Homo sapiens: one gene and its partner. The protein of the gene in region 1 interacts with the protein of each later gene in a biochemical or structural test. Each region holds a gene or a part of one and is shown on either strand. Other genes may lie near its edges.

Region 1 (4,418 bases):
CTGTACTGTGTGTATATATATATATATATATATATATATATATATCTGTACTGTAAAAATTCAGAAGTTTTTCCCTTTAAGAATGTGTATTTGGAACTTTCTCTCTTTTTTTTTTTTTTCTGTTTTAAAACGTCATATGTACATTTCCCTCCTCTTCCCCTTTCTCTCCCTAGAATATGAGAAGGGCCTAGAATGAAGGACTCAGAGGTTTGAATGTTCCTATTCGCTTAGCCTGGTTGCGTGCTTACCTGTAAACCTTTGTGCCGCCCCTTTTATGACAGGGACAGCTCTGTATCCCTGCCACATTGCTTTTTTACTGTGCAATCTAGGCAGTGGCATTGTATTATATTTCATGCGTATATTATCTTGTGTCACCTATGTAATTGACTTTTTAATCTTTTCATGACCATTTCCTGGATGTTTCAGGTATCTGTCTGGAGAAAAGAAAAACATATTACTTGACATGTCATTAAAGTTTGTTAAATTCCATGGTGTGAATAAGCTCAACCCGCGCTCTTCATGAAGTCTCAATTTCTATCTGGTATTTTCATGGTGTTTTGATATAATTAGGAACCCTGAATATAGACGTCTCATTTTAAAAGAGTTCTGAAAATGTTCTGTTTCAAAAATGAACTGAAGTTAGGAGAAGCCTCCATATGTTTATCCTAAGTATGGTAAACTATTTAAGAAACAGTTATTATTTCTTACTGGATTGTTTGTTAATTCATAAAGTTAGGTCATAAAGTTGTTAATTCTGTATTGGATTGTTTGTTAATTCATAAAGTAAAACCATACAGTGGGAATTTGGAAAAATTACCTCTTATTTTCTTCACAAAATACCAATTATTTTGTTTTATGTAGGCTCCTTGAAGTTCGTGGAAGGCTGTATGAGCTTCTAACTCATTGTATTCCTCCTGAGATAATAATGAAGGTAACCCAATTTCAGATCTTGAACTTTTTACAGCTATAAAATTTGGACGCTGGGTGTGTGATCATAGGGCTTTTTGCAGTATCAAGATATCACCTCTTTCTCTCCAGCGCATTAATTGCACGTATTTACTGAACCTCTATGGTGTGCCAGGCACTATTAGAGGAATGCTGAAGAAAAGAAGGGAGGGCCTGCCTAAAGTGAAGTTATATTCTAGTGGTGTGAAAAGGAGAACAAATAAAGAAGAGAATTTCAGAGTGTTGTAAGTGCTGTAAAGGAAATACCAAGGTGCAGGGATGATAATGGAGGGTGGGGCTACAAAGAAAAAAGTGAAGTTCCACCCATCCGTTTTCACAAAGGTAACCACTTTTAACAGACCTCTTTTCTATTCACATAGAAACAAGTACGTGTATATATGTGGTTTCACAAAACTTCTCAGTTTTCCACACTTTAGTATGGATGTTGTGTCATGACCATATGTATAGATTTACTTCGTTCTGTTAATGGATGAATGGTTTTCTGTTGTGTGACTGTATCATAGCTTTTCCGAATATGACCTCCATTGGTGGAACTTTAGGTTGTCTACAAATTATTATTGTTATTATAAATAGTGCTGCAGAAAGCATCCTTACACTTATATCCTTGCACTTTGTGCAGTTAAATATTTGGAATTTAGAATGTGGTTGATACCCACCACATTTTTATGTCATGGAAAAAGTACCCAAAGTTTTTGCTTTTGGATGAAGGTCGTTGATTCACATAAAAAATTAAAGATCTCACACATATAAAGAGAGTATGTTTAACTTTAGTCTTTTTGTGAATGGGAGAAATAAGGCATGCTTAGCTGTTTTTATTAATGATTTTTAAATTACTGATTATTTTTGTTTAGGGCCTTCTCTCAGAACTGTTACATAATTGTGATGGACAACTGAAAGGGGAGGTGGCACAAATGGCAGCTTACTATGAGCATCGTCTACAGCTGGGTAGCAAAGCCATTTATCACTTGGAAGCGTTTGTGGCCAAATTCATGGCACTTTATAAGAAGTTCATGGAGGATGGATTGGAAGGCATGATGTTCTGACTTCTGTCAGTTATTCTTGCAAAGATTTCTCAGTATCAGTATTTACATACAGCTTATATTAAAAGAGCTGTGGGTAAATTAACTGAACTTAATCATGTCGTATTTGCGTTTTTTTGGTAATAACTTCTCTGTGAACTATTAATCATCCTCTGAGTTAAATAATTGCTCCTATACTATTGAAGTATGTAGTTTTGTACATAACTTAGAGACTTTAGAGTCTAAGAAAATGATCTTAATTTACTTTAAGCATTGGTTATTCAAGTATTCATTGTTGATCCTCCTATTCTCTTCCGTCTAATCTCTCACCTGCTAAAGGAGATTTACACATTAGAAAGCAAAGATTATTTTCATTTATCCAGATGACCATTTTCTGCCACAGGTAACATGATTGTTTGACACACCATTATATTTAATTCTAGTTTCTCTCAATGAATAATTGTATTTTTGTAGGAAATGTAAGATTTCATTCTGAAACATAATTATTGGTATGGACAAAATTGCAGATACCATTTCTGTTGAGGCTGCAGATTTCCAACTTTTATTTCAGTGGTTCAGATTAGTATTAGGTCGGTACTAAGAAATAAGCATGTTTTCACTAATTTAAGTACTTGAGACTCTTGAAGAAAATTCAGAATGAAGTTCTGGAGAAAGGTATGTTACTGTAGTAATTACTCTTTGAACAGGTTTTGTGTTTTGTCATTAGCTCTGCCCTTTTTAATTAAATATTTTGGTTCATGGACCAAAGGGTTTACTTGACAAATTTGTGTGACAGACTCCGAACAATTCCTTTACTACGAAGTATAATTTATAAAATAAAATATACCCATTTTAAGGGTACAGTTTGATTTTTGACCAGTGAAACTATGATCCCAATCAAGGTATAGATGCCGTCACCCCAAAAAGTTCCCTCCATATCCCTTTGCAGTCAGTTCATCCCTACCCTGGCCCAGATGATCACTGATCTTGTCATTATAGATGAGTTTTGCCAGTTCAAGAATTTAATGGAATCAGATATTGTAAGCATTCTTGTGTAATACTTCATTCTCTCTCATTATTGAGATTCATCCATATTGTTGAATGTTTCACTAGTTAATGTTTATTGTTCAATATTTTTGTATATACTTTTAAAGCCTATTCACTTGCTGATGGATCTTTGGTTTGTTTCCAGGTTTGGTTATTATGAATAAAGTTGCTGTGAATACTTACGTGTAAGTCTTTTTGTGGACAGGTTTTTATTTGTCTTGAGTAACTACGTAAGAGTGCAATGACTGGGCATACAATATTGTAAACATTAACTTTTAAAAAGTTGCTTAACTTTCCTAAAGTTATATTACTTTACACTTCTACCAGCAATATAAGAGAATTCCTGTTGTTCCTATAGTATTGGTTTTATTGACTTTCTATGTTGTTGTCCATTTATATTTTATTACCTTTTTTATCTTCTACTTTTTCCCTCTACTTATTTTTCTAGGTTATGTACTTGGAAATTTAGATAATTAACTTTAGACTATTCTTTTCTAATATAATTTAAAGTTATAAATTTCACTCTGAGTACTGATTAAGCTTTTTAACATTCTCCTACAAATGTTGATATTTTAGGTTTTCATTTCTACTTAGTTCAAACTTTTCTGATTTCACTTGTGATTTTTTTTTTAACCAATGGATTACTTGGAATTGTGTTGTTCAATTTCCAAGTCCTTAGGGATTTTCCAAATATATTTTTACACCTCCTCTGTCTTTCTTAGTTTTTAGTCTTTCACTGAGAGAAATATTGAAATCTCCCTCCATAATTATGCATCTGTCTAATTCAGTTCTTTTGGACTTCAAGCATTTTGAAGATCGTTCTTAGGTACTTGAATAATATCTTGATATATTGACTCCTTTATCATTATGAAGTGCCCAGTTGCTTCTCTGTCTTTTGGCTAAGATCATGTGTATGAAATGCCCTTTTTTATTTCTAATGATATTCCTTACTGTGAAAATCTACTTTTTTTAATATTTATGTAGACACTCCAGCTTTCTTTTGATTAGTGTTTGCATGGTAGGAGTATTTCTTATAGCGTACGTCTGCTAACAATTTTCTCAGTTTTTGTTTCTCTGGAATGTAGTTTACCATTTATAGGATTCTTGGTTGATTTGGGTGTTTTAAACCCCCACCACTTTGAATATGTCATTCTGCTGCCTTCACGTTTCTGTTGTTTCTGATGACAAGTTAGCCAGTAGTCTTGAGGTTGTTTCCTTTTACATAATGAGCCAATTTTCTTTTGCAGTTTTCAGTATTTCTTTTTTTCTTTGGCTTTTAGTAGTGTATGATATGTCTACATGTAGTTTTCTTTGTATTTCTCCTACTTGGGCTTTGTTGAGTTTCTTGAATCAGATTATTATGAGTTGTATTAGTTGCTTTGAAGT
Region 2 (8,566 bases), on another chromosome or scaffold:
CCAACACCAGGAGGGCCTGACAGCAACGCTGCTTTAAAACTAGAGCCATCATCTTTGCCGGAAAATTTACCAAACTTTGCTGCTAGGAAAAAAGAAGTTCCAGAGTGTCAACCTATATCACCTAACAGAAATTCAAGCATGGCAGAAATAGTTATGCCTAAACTTCACATAGACAGCTGTCCTCCAGTTTAGTTCTAAATTTGCAGACTATTTTCTACAAAGCATAAACAAGTTTCCAGAGCATTCAGTGAAATTCTACTTCCTACCTCACCCCCACCCAAAATAAAAAACTAAAACTAACTCACTTAAAACTCTTGATTTGAAATAATAATTGTATGAGTTTCCTTTCCTGTGAACGCACAGGCCATGGAGCACGCTGCCGGGGCTCGATCCCAACTCCATCCATCCTCATGCCACCTCTCACCAGCCGTGGGTACTTTAGAAGTGACTTAGCCCCTCTGTGCCTGCCTCCTCCTTTGTTAGATGAGGAGAACAACAGTAAAGTTGCTGCTAAGGATGTTGTGAGGACGGAATGGCTGAGCACAGAGCCATGCAAGCTTCACTAAATGTTAACAAGCATAGTAGCTACATGGTCACAAGAAGAAAAAATGACTTGAAGATGCTGCGTCTGCAACTACCTTGTGCCCCTCAACACTACAGCACTCTTCCTCCCCTCACCACGTGAGCACCTGGCACATACATCATGCTCAACTCATACTCAATAACTGACAGAGACAATGGTTTTCAACCTACTGCCAGCGGGCATGAAGACAGGGACTAGAGTTCACCCGAAGCTTTAAAACAGTCTTCTTGGCTGGGTGCGGTGGCTCACGCCTGTAATCTCAGCACCTGGGGAGGCCAAGGCGGGTAGAGCACAAGGTCAGGAGTTCAAGACCAGCCTGGCCAGCATGGTGAAATCCCATCTCTACTAAAACTACAAAAAATTAGCCAGGCATGGTGGTGTGCACCTGTAGTCTCAGCTGCTCAGGAGGCTGAGACAGAAGAATCACCTGAACCCAGGAAGCAGAGGTTGCAGTGAGCCAAGATCGCACCACTGCACTCCAGCCTGGGCAACAGAGCAAGACTCTGTCTCAAAACAAAACAAAACAAAACAAAAAAAAAACAGTCTTCTCCAGGCACATGAAATGCCTGTCTCCTCTTTTAAGGGAGATTTTATGAAGTTTCAGAATGAAAAAAGTGATTTAACTTAAATTTAGTCCTGTATCATTACAATATATTATTTTTATAAATAAACAGGCATCATTGGCAATGATGATTGGCAATCTAGTCATCACTGGTCTATGTTGAAAACACTACTAAAACATTTGTGATCTCAAAGCTCAGTTAAGAAAATACTTTGGACATTAAATACATATTGGAGCTTTTCACTCTCCACGACAAATAATACATCATAAACAAGGACAGAAACTACAGAAGCACAGGCCTATCGGGCCTGCCACAGCAAATCGTGCTTGCTACTGGGAGTTTAGGCTGACTGCCCTGCACGCATGCCTCTGTTATTTATTCACAGCTTTCCTCCTAGTGCCCTTGCCACTCAGGGGTCTTGCTGTCACATGGCTTCAGACCTTGGGACACATACTCTTTCCTACCCAACACTCATCTCTCCCTCCCTTCACCTAGCTAGCTCCTACTTTGTTTCCAAGTCTTAGCTTAGCCATCCCTTCCTCTGGGATGGGAGCACACACACCCTGGCCCTGACCACACATCTTCATCCTCACAGCACCCTGGACTTACCCCTCTAGCAGTACTTGGCAAATATATTTTAATGGCTGGTTCAGATATGCCTCCCCCACTGCCTGTGAGCTCCTGAGAGGGACTGTTTTGTTCACAACACCACCAGCAGGGTCTAGTACTGCACCTGGGTTCAGATCAAGCTCTTAATAAATGCTTGCTGACAGATGAATGAATCGTTAGATTTTCTCATATATGTGCCACTGAGCAATCACATGTTGATATACACACACACAAAAATGAGTGAGGTTGTAAAATCACCGTGTTTTTTATCTTCGGAAGAACTCTTTTGCCAGTTTCGGAGCCAGCGTAGGAGTTTGTTGGCACAGCTCTGGTCACCTTGCTGTCCAATTATGGTCTTGAGCGAGGTTGGCTTATATTTATCCACCCAGAGCAAATTTTCCACTTTGTTTTCACTGCTGTCATCAGCCAAATTCCTAGCCTTGCTGTCACCACTTGTCTCCTCAGCCACCTGCTCCTTGAAATCCAGGCTTTTCCAAAACACATCTGTTTCCTTTTTTATTGTCTTTGCCAAACTGTCCCTTTTGGAAGTCGGCCTGCTCTTTTTAGATTCTGATTCCTTTTTAGATGGACTAATTTTTCTTTTTCCTTGGACATTTTTTTGGGGTGTTCTCTCCAGTTTGGACTCTTTCTTCATCTTAAGAAGTGGAAAAATGAGGAAAAAAGAAACCTGATGAAACATACAGAATTTCTATCCTGCTAAACGTACTACAGAGAGCAATCAGAGATATCCAAGTGGGCTACTCAACCTGGGCTGGTCTTTTCACAACAGACTTTCCTGTTTGTGGAAATCACCACCTTCTAAACTATAAAAATTAACAAACACACCAGAAACCACCAAATGCAATTTCTAAAAGTGACAACACGTTGATTTTTAAAAGTAATAAGTACTCCAATTTTAGTTTGAAAAAAACAAGGTACAGTGTTGAGATTTTTGTTTCAAAGTTTCCTAATTAAAAGTTAATGCCTCGACAAAAACTTGTACACAAATGTTCATAACCACATTATAGCTAAAAGATGGAAACAATCCAAATGTCCATCAACTGAAAAAGAAACAAAATAGGATGTGTCCACACAATGAAATATTATTTACCCCTAACAAGGACTGAAGCACTGATACATGCTACAACCCAGGTCAACCTTGAAACCACTATGCTAAGTGGAAGAAGCCAGACACAAAAGGCCATATATTCTAATGTCTCCATACACACGTGAAACGTCCAGCATAGGAAAATCCATAGAGACAGAGCAGAGCAGTGAGTGCCACGGGGTGGATAGAATGAGTGGCTGCTGATAGGTACAGGGTTTCTTTTCAGGGTGAGGAAAATGTTCTGGAATTACACAGTGCTAATGGTTGTATACTCTTGTTAATATACTAAAAACCACTGATTTGTATACTTTATAAGGGTGGATTTTATAGTATGTAATATCTCAGTTTTTAAAAAAATTAGTGCCTCTTTAGCAGTGGATGCTAAAATTAGTGGATGAATGTTTAAGGACAAACAGGATATAAGCATAAGTACCTCCTTCTCCTGCCAAGACAGTTATCGATTACAAAGGAAAAAATAGTCACTTTACTAGTGAAGGAACCCAGCACTAGTTTCAGTGGGATGCTGAATCATCTTAACCAAATAATCAAGATTATCCTCACTAATAATAAGACGTTATTGACATCCTGTATCTATGATAGGATGCACTGAGGACACAAGATCACATCCATGGTGTTCTTAGAAAAAAGGCATAACCTCAACCTAATCATGAGAAAACATCACAGATCCAAACTGAGAGACATTCCACAAAACTGACCAGTACTCATTAAAAGTGTCAAGGTTGTAAGAAGACAAGGAAAGACTGAAGAAATGTCATCGACGGGAGAAGACTAAGAAGACACAACTAAATGCAGTGTGGGACCCTGGAACAGAAGAACTACAGGGAAAAATGTAAGGTTCGAAAAATATGTACAGGTTAGTTAACAATACGGCATCAATGTTAATTTCCTGGTTTTTATAACTATGCTATGGTTATGTAATCGAAATCATTCCCTAGATTTCTCTAACCGGAATAACCTGGATGGACCATCTTGCCATTTGGGTGACAGAGCTGGGGACATTAAAATCTTGGAATGCTGGCAATCCTGTGTCCTGTGTGTAAAAAAAGATGGTCTACAGTGGGAATGAATGAGGCTAACTAGTAGAAACAGAGAGACAGAAACTGAAGGGGTCCTCACAGCTTTGTAGTCTGTGGATCCAATAGTTCCTAGACCAGACCCTCCCTGCCCATAGTTTAGTTATGTGAGCCAACATTTTTCCTTTTGCAAAAGCTAATACAGGCTAGGTGTCTGCACAATTTAAAAAGTCCTAATACAGTTCTAATTGAAAACAAATTTATCATGCTAATACCTATTAAAATATCCTTTAAGGAACTCTTAAACAATAACCTTTGCATAAAGTCAACGTGAGAATATGGCCGGGAACAGTGGCTCACACCTATAATCCCAGCACTTTGGGACGCTGAAGTGGGTGAATCACTTGAGGTCAGGAGTTCAAGGCCAGCCTGGCCAACATGGTGAAACTCCGTCTCTATTAAAAATATAAAAATTAGCAGGCGTGGTGTCAGGTATCTGTAGTTCCAGCTACTCAGGAGGCTGAGGCAGGAGAATCGCTTGAACCCAGGAGGCAGAAGTTGCAGTGATCCGAGATCACACCACTGCACTCCGACCTGAGGGACAGAGCTAGACTCTGTCTCAAAAAATTAAAAAATAGTAGTAATAATAGTAATATGGAAAATAAGGAAAGTTTGATAAGTAGATATGTTATATGCAATATACTGTCCTTTCTCTACTCATATTCCCTGACAAAGATAAGGAAAAACAACAAAGTAGACATCTTGAAGCAGAGTCTTCCAGCTCAAAAGGAACTAAGGTGGTCCATTTGTGGTAGACAGGGATGTTAATCTTTCAGCCAACAAGCCTGTATCCACCCAAGACATATGTCTATGAAATTAAAAAGTTAATATACACCAACTTAAATCACATTCATTTTATACGAACCTCAGTTTCAACTGCTATTTCATACTTGGATTTCTTGCCTGGCATAGTCCGAATCAGATTCAACAGGCCATCTTCATCAATAATTTTTGTCCCCAAGGCTGCGGCCTGTTGATTAAAAATGTAAACCATCAAAACTGCATCCTGCATCCTACCATTCCCTTCTCTTACAAAAAAAAAAATTCTAGGGCCTATTAGTAGGTGAAAAACCACATTCGTAAATTAAGATAACACTGGAATTAAAAAAGAAAAACAAAAAATAGCACATTCATTGAAAAAGTAACATTGAAAAGAAAGAAAATAACAGATACATTCCCTAAGAGTAGCAGGTTGGCATGGGAAGTGGTCCATTTCTACTTTTGTGGACTGCTTTACCTTTCCTCCCCTAGAAAGGGGCAATGGCCACTAGGGCCTAAGACCAGCTCTTCATACCTTCTCCCATATTTAATGCATATGGCAGACATTTCCCCCACCTTCTTCCCTGCTGATGGAACTCCAATGTGTCCTTCTTCAAGTGATGAATGATGACTGGTCCAAGGCAACCAGAAACGTCTTGGTTCTTCCCAACCTCCCATACAGCTCTGAGTGGCCAGGTGACAGCTCTGGCCAATGAGCCTTATGTGAAATTCTATAAGACATGTTTCTGGGAAAACTCTCGTCAGGCCAGTCACAGCTCTTATGACATACTTGCCACTGTTCCCTTTTCCTGCCTTGAATAAGAATTTAAATGCCTAGAGCTGCAACTACCTTGCAACCACAAGGCAACATGCATGAGGACAAAAGTTAACACAATAAGGACAGATGGAGGAACCACATCGTTGAGATGCCGAACTATCCCAGCAATACCTCCAGAATTCTTGTGAGAAAAATTAGCAGCTGTTTAATCCACGGTTAATCAGATATTCTGCTGTTTGGAGCTAAACACAATCCTACCCAACAGGCCGCTGATTCTTTTTCTAAAAACACCAATTTAAAAAAACCTAAGATGGTGTATACAGTGGCATATATAGGAATACTTCGGACTGGAAGAAAAAGAAAACTGCATTTGTTTCTATCTTCAAAAATAAAAAAAGACTTAAACTTAAATACACTAAAAAAAAGTCAAGTAAACAGGAACTATGCCTTCCATTGGAAAACCAAAATCCTGGTGTCAGAGCCAATAACACTTCTGTGGAGAAGAAATAATGTAGGCAAGAAATTACTTTTCTATTTCTTTCCTTCATTTAACTCTGAGTAAAGGGCAAATCACATCAAGAGTGTGCCAAGGCAGGCAGGAGGTGTCATGGTGTTGAGAACAAAGCAGTACCCACCTTATCACTCTTGGACTGTCCACTATCACGACCCATGACAAGATAATTTGTTTTCTTGCTGACATTTCCTGTTACTTTTCCCCCATAACGTTCAATTAGAGACTTGGCCTCATCTCGTTCAATAGACTCCAGCACGCCTGTGATTACAAATATAAGGCCTTCCAAGCAATTTTCAGCTCCCTAAAAACCAAAATGTTCAAGCAGAGAGGAAATTACATGGTAGCTTTCCAAAGAAACATTTGGCATCAAAACTGCAGGAAGTTGATTTTTCTCATTTCACATCATAAATAACCTTGGCATGGAAAGTTTGCTGGAAATTTACAGCAAATAAGCACCACCTGAAATTAGATCCTAAGAAATTTTGATATGGCTAACGTTTAATAAACTTACAAAACAAGCAGTGAAAAACATACATCCAACACTGTTAGCAAAGCTATTAAAATTACCCATTCATACTATTTTCCATTATGCCCTCTTCATATCTAAACTACTAGTTAACTTGCATAACTATAAATAAACAACCAAATGCAATCCATCTGTAGAAACTCTTGCTATTCAGGAAACTGCTTGTTCTTAAGAACTTTCCCAACAAGAATTTAATAGAAGCAGGTATACTCCTATCATTTTGATGTTTCTGTTAATGTTTCGAAACAATGTACTTTAAAATCAGAATCACTTCTTATCATTTTCAAATACTTCTGATGCTTTTCACCACATTAGTGATCAGAAATGAGGTCTAATTCCCCAATCCCTGCCCGCAAGAGCTAAGTAGGATCTTAACTGTAAGTTGAAGGGAGTTTTGCCCGAACTCATGGATTGTACAAGAACAAACTGCTGCTGGGTTGGATGGTCTGCCAATGGATTGTGGTGTGGCATATCTGAAGGCTACTGAATGCAACTTATAATGCTTAATAAAAAATTTTTACTGTTTTATGGGAAAAAAGGGAAAAAAGGCAACTCTTGCTATTGTTAAAAAGGGAAAGTTTTGATTCTAAAAAGCTAAGCAAGTGTGAGCTCGTGCCTTCCTCTCTGCTCATTACTCTAGGATAGTAAATCTAGCAATCTTCTAGTAACTTAAAGGCAAGATCGTATTATCTCTGGATTGGAAAGATAACTCTCATAATGTATAATATAAGAGATACTTGCCAAAGAGAGCTGGATGGAAAAGACATTAAATCTTAATTGGAACTATGTTGAGTTATATATTTTTGCAATGGTTCAATAAAATTATACAACCAAACAAAATGAAAATTATACATGACATTCCAAGTTACTTATTACTCTTTTAATAGAGAATTGAGATTAATAAACTTAAAATGGGCTTGAAAAGCAGCAGCCAACCAAAATTCAAAGACTGCCTCCATGTAAGTTCAATCCTTCACCATTCAGATGAAGAATCTTTCTCGGAAGACAAAAAGAAACAGCTATGAAGGTGCTTGGAAAGAAAAGGTTTGACTAACAATATCTCAGGGTCCCTTGAAGCCTTTATGGGTTCTTGGATTGAAATGATCTACTGTAACACTACAGGAACTTAACTACTTCTGAACAAACTCAAAACAACCCTGGAAAAATTGCACATGCAAGCCCCTATATCCCATATCCCAAACATCTATTATCTCCCAAATTATCACCCACTATGGCTCTGATTATCTTTTTACTTATCCAATCTTAGCACTTCTAGCCTCCCTATCAAACTCTTCTATTCTAGAATTTGGCTAAGCTCTTACTCCAGGAGCAGCCAGCCACCCCTAGTATCCTCAACCTCTTCTCCAACATTCCCTCCATAGCCTTGCCTTCACTGAAACCTGTCTGTCCCCTCAGGGCACCACTTTGACTGAAGTCCTCTCAAGCAGAACTTGTTTGGTCTCTCATACCCATGTACAGGAGGCAAGACTGGCATCTTCCTGCAGGCTCCCATAAAACCCATAAGCCCCTTAAGGCCGACCTTCTCGCTCCCCACTCCGGTCCCAGCTACACCATCTCTCCCTCTCTTTATTAGGGGAGCTATTAATCTCTATATGTACTTATATATACCAAGCAAACTGAAAATTAAATTTATACATATATTGTATACTTATCCCCTCCCCTCCTGCCTTCTTAGAAATCTCATGCTACAATTGATTCTCCTTCTCCTGCTGGTATAACTTCCATCTCTCCCTTTCTGGTAGGATCTATCCCATTAGCAAAACGCATGCTTTAAATATCTCCTACCATAAAAATACTTAAATCTCCCCCTAAATTCCACTTTCCATTCTAGCTAGAAGTCACTTCCCCTTCTAGTCCTTCTAGCTAGAAGTCCTCCCACTTCTTTCTCCTTCACAGCCAAACTTATCAAAAATATCTACTTTTGCTGTCTCCATTTTGTCTCCTCACACTCACTCTTCCACCCGCTTCCATCAGGCTCTGCCTCCACTGTCCTTAGCTCTTGCTAAGGCCA

The links. Proteins that work in one complex are often made in the same cells at the same time.
Region 2: the proteins of RFC3 (region 1) and RFC1 form a complex in vitro, tested with the Homo sapiens proteins (one study listed by BioGRID).

What each region holds. Positions count from the first base shown.
Region 1 is NC_000013.11:33,834,287-33,838,704, forward strand, and holds the end of RFC3 (replication factor C subunit 3), read left to right. Parts: intron 1-861; coding exon 862-931; intron 932-1,817; coding exon 1,818-2,009; 3' UTR 2,010-3,177; coding exon of another isoform or gene 3,178-3,192; 3' UTR 3,193-3,214; downstream 3,215-4,418. UniProt on the Homo sapiens protein: Subunit of the replication factor C (RFC) complex which acts during elongation of primed DNA templates by DNA polymerases delta and epsilon, and is necessary for ATP-dependent loading of proliferating cell nuclear antigen (PCNA) onto primed DNA.
Region 2 is NC_000004.12:39,306,623-39,315,188, forward strand, and holds part of RFC1 (replication factor C subunit 1), read right to left. Parts: intron 6,310-8,566; coding exon 6,130-6,309; intron 4,928-6,129; coding exon 4,823-4,927; intron 2,411-4,822; coding exon 2,014-2,410; intron 83-2,013; coding exon of another isoform or gene 80-82; coding exon 1-79. UniProt on the Homo sapiens protein: Subunit of the replication factor C (RFC) complex which acts during elongation of primed DNA templates by DNA polymerases delta and epsilon, and is necessary for ATP-dependent loading of proliferating cell nuclear antigen (PCNA) onto primed DNA.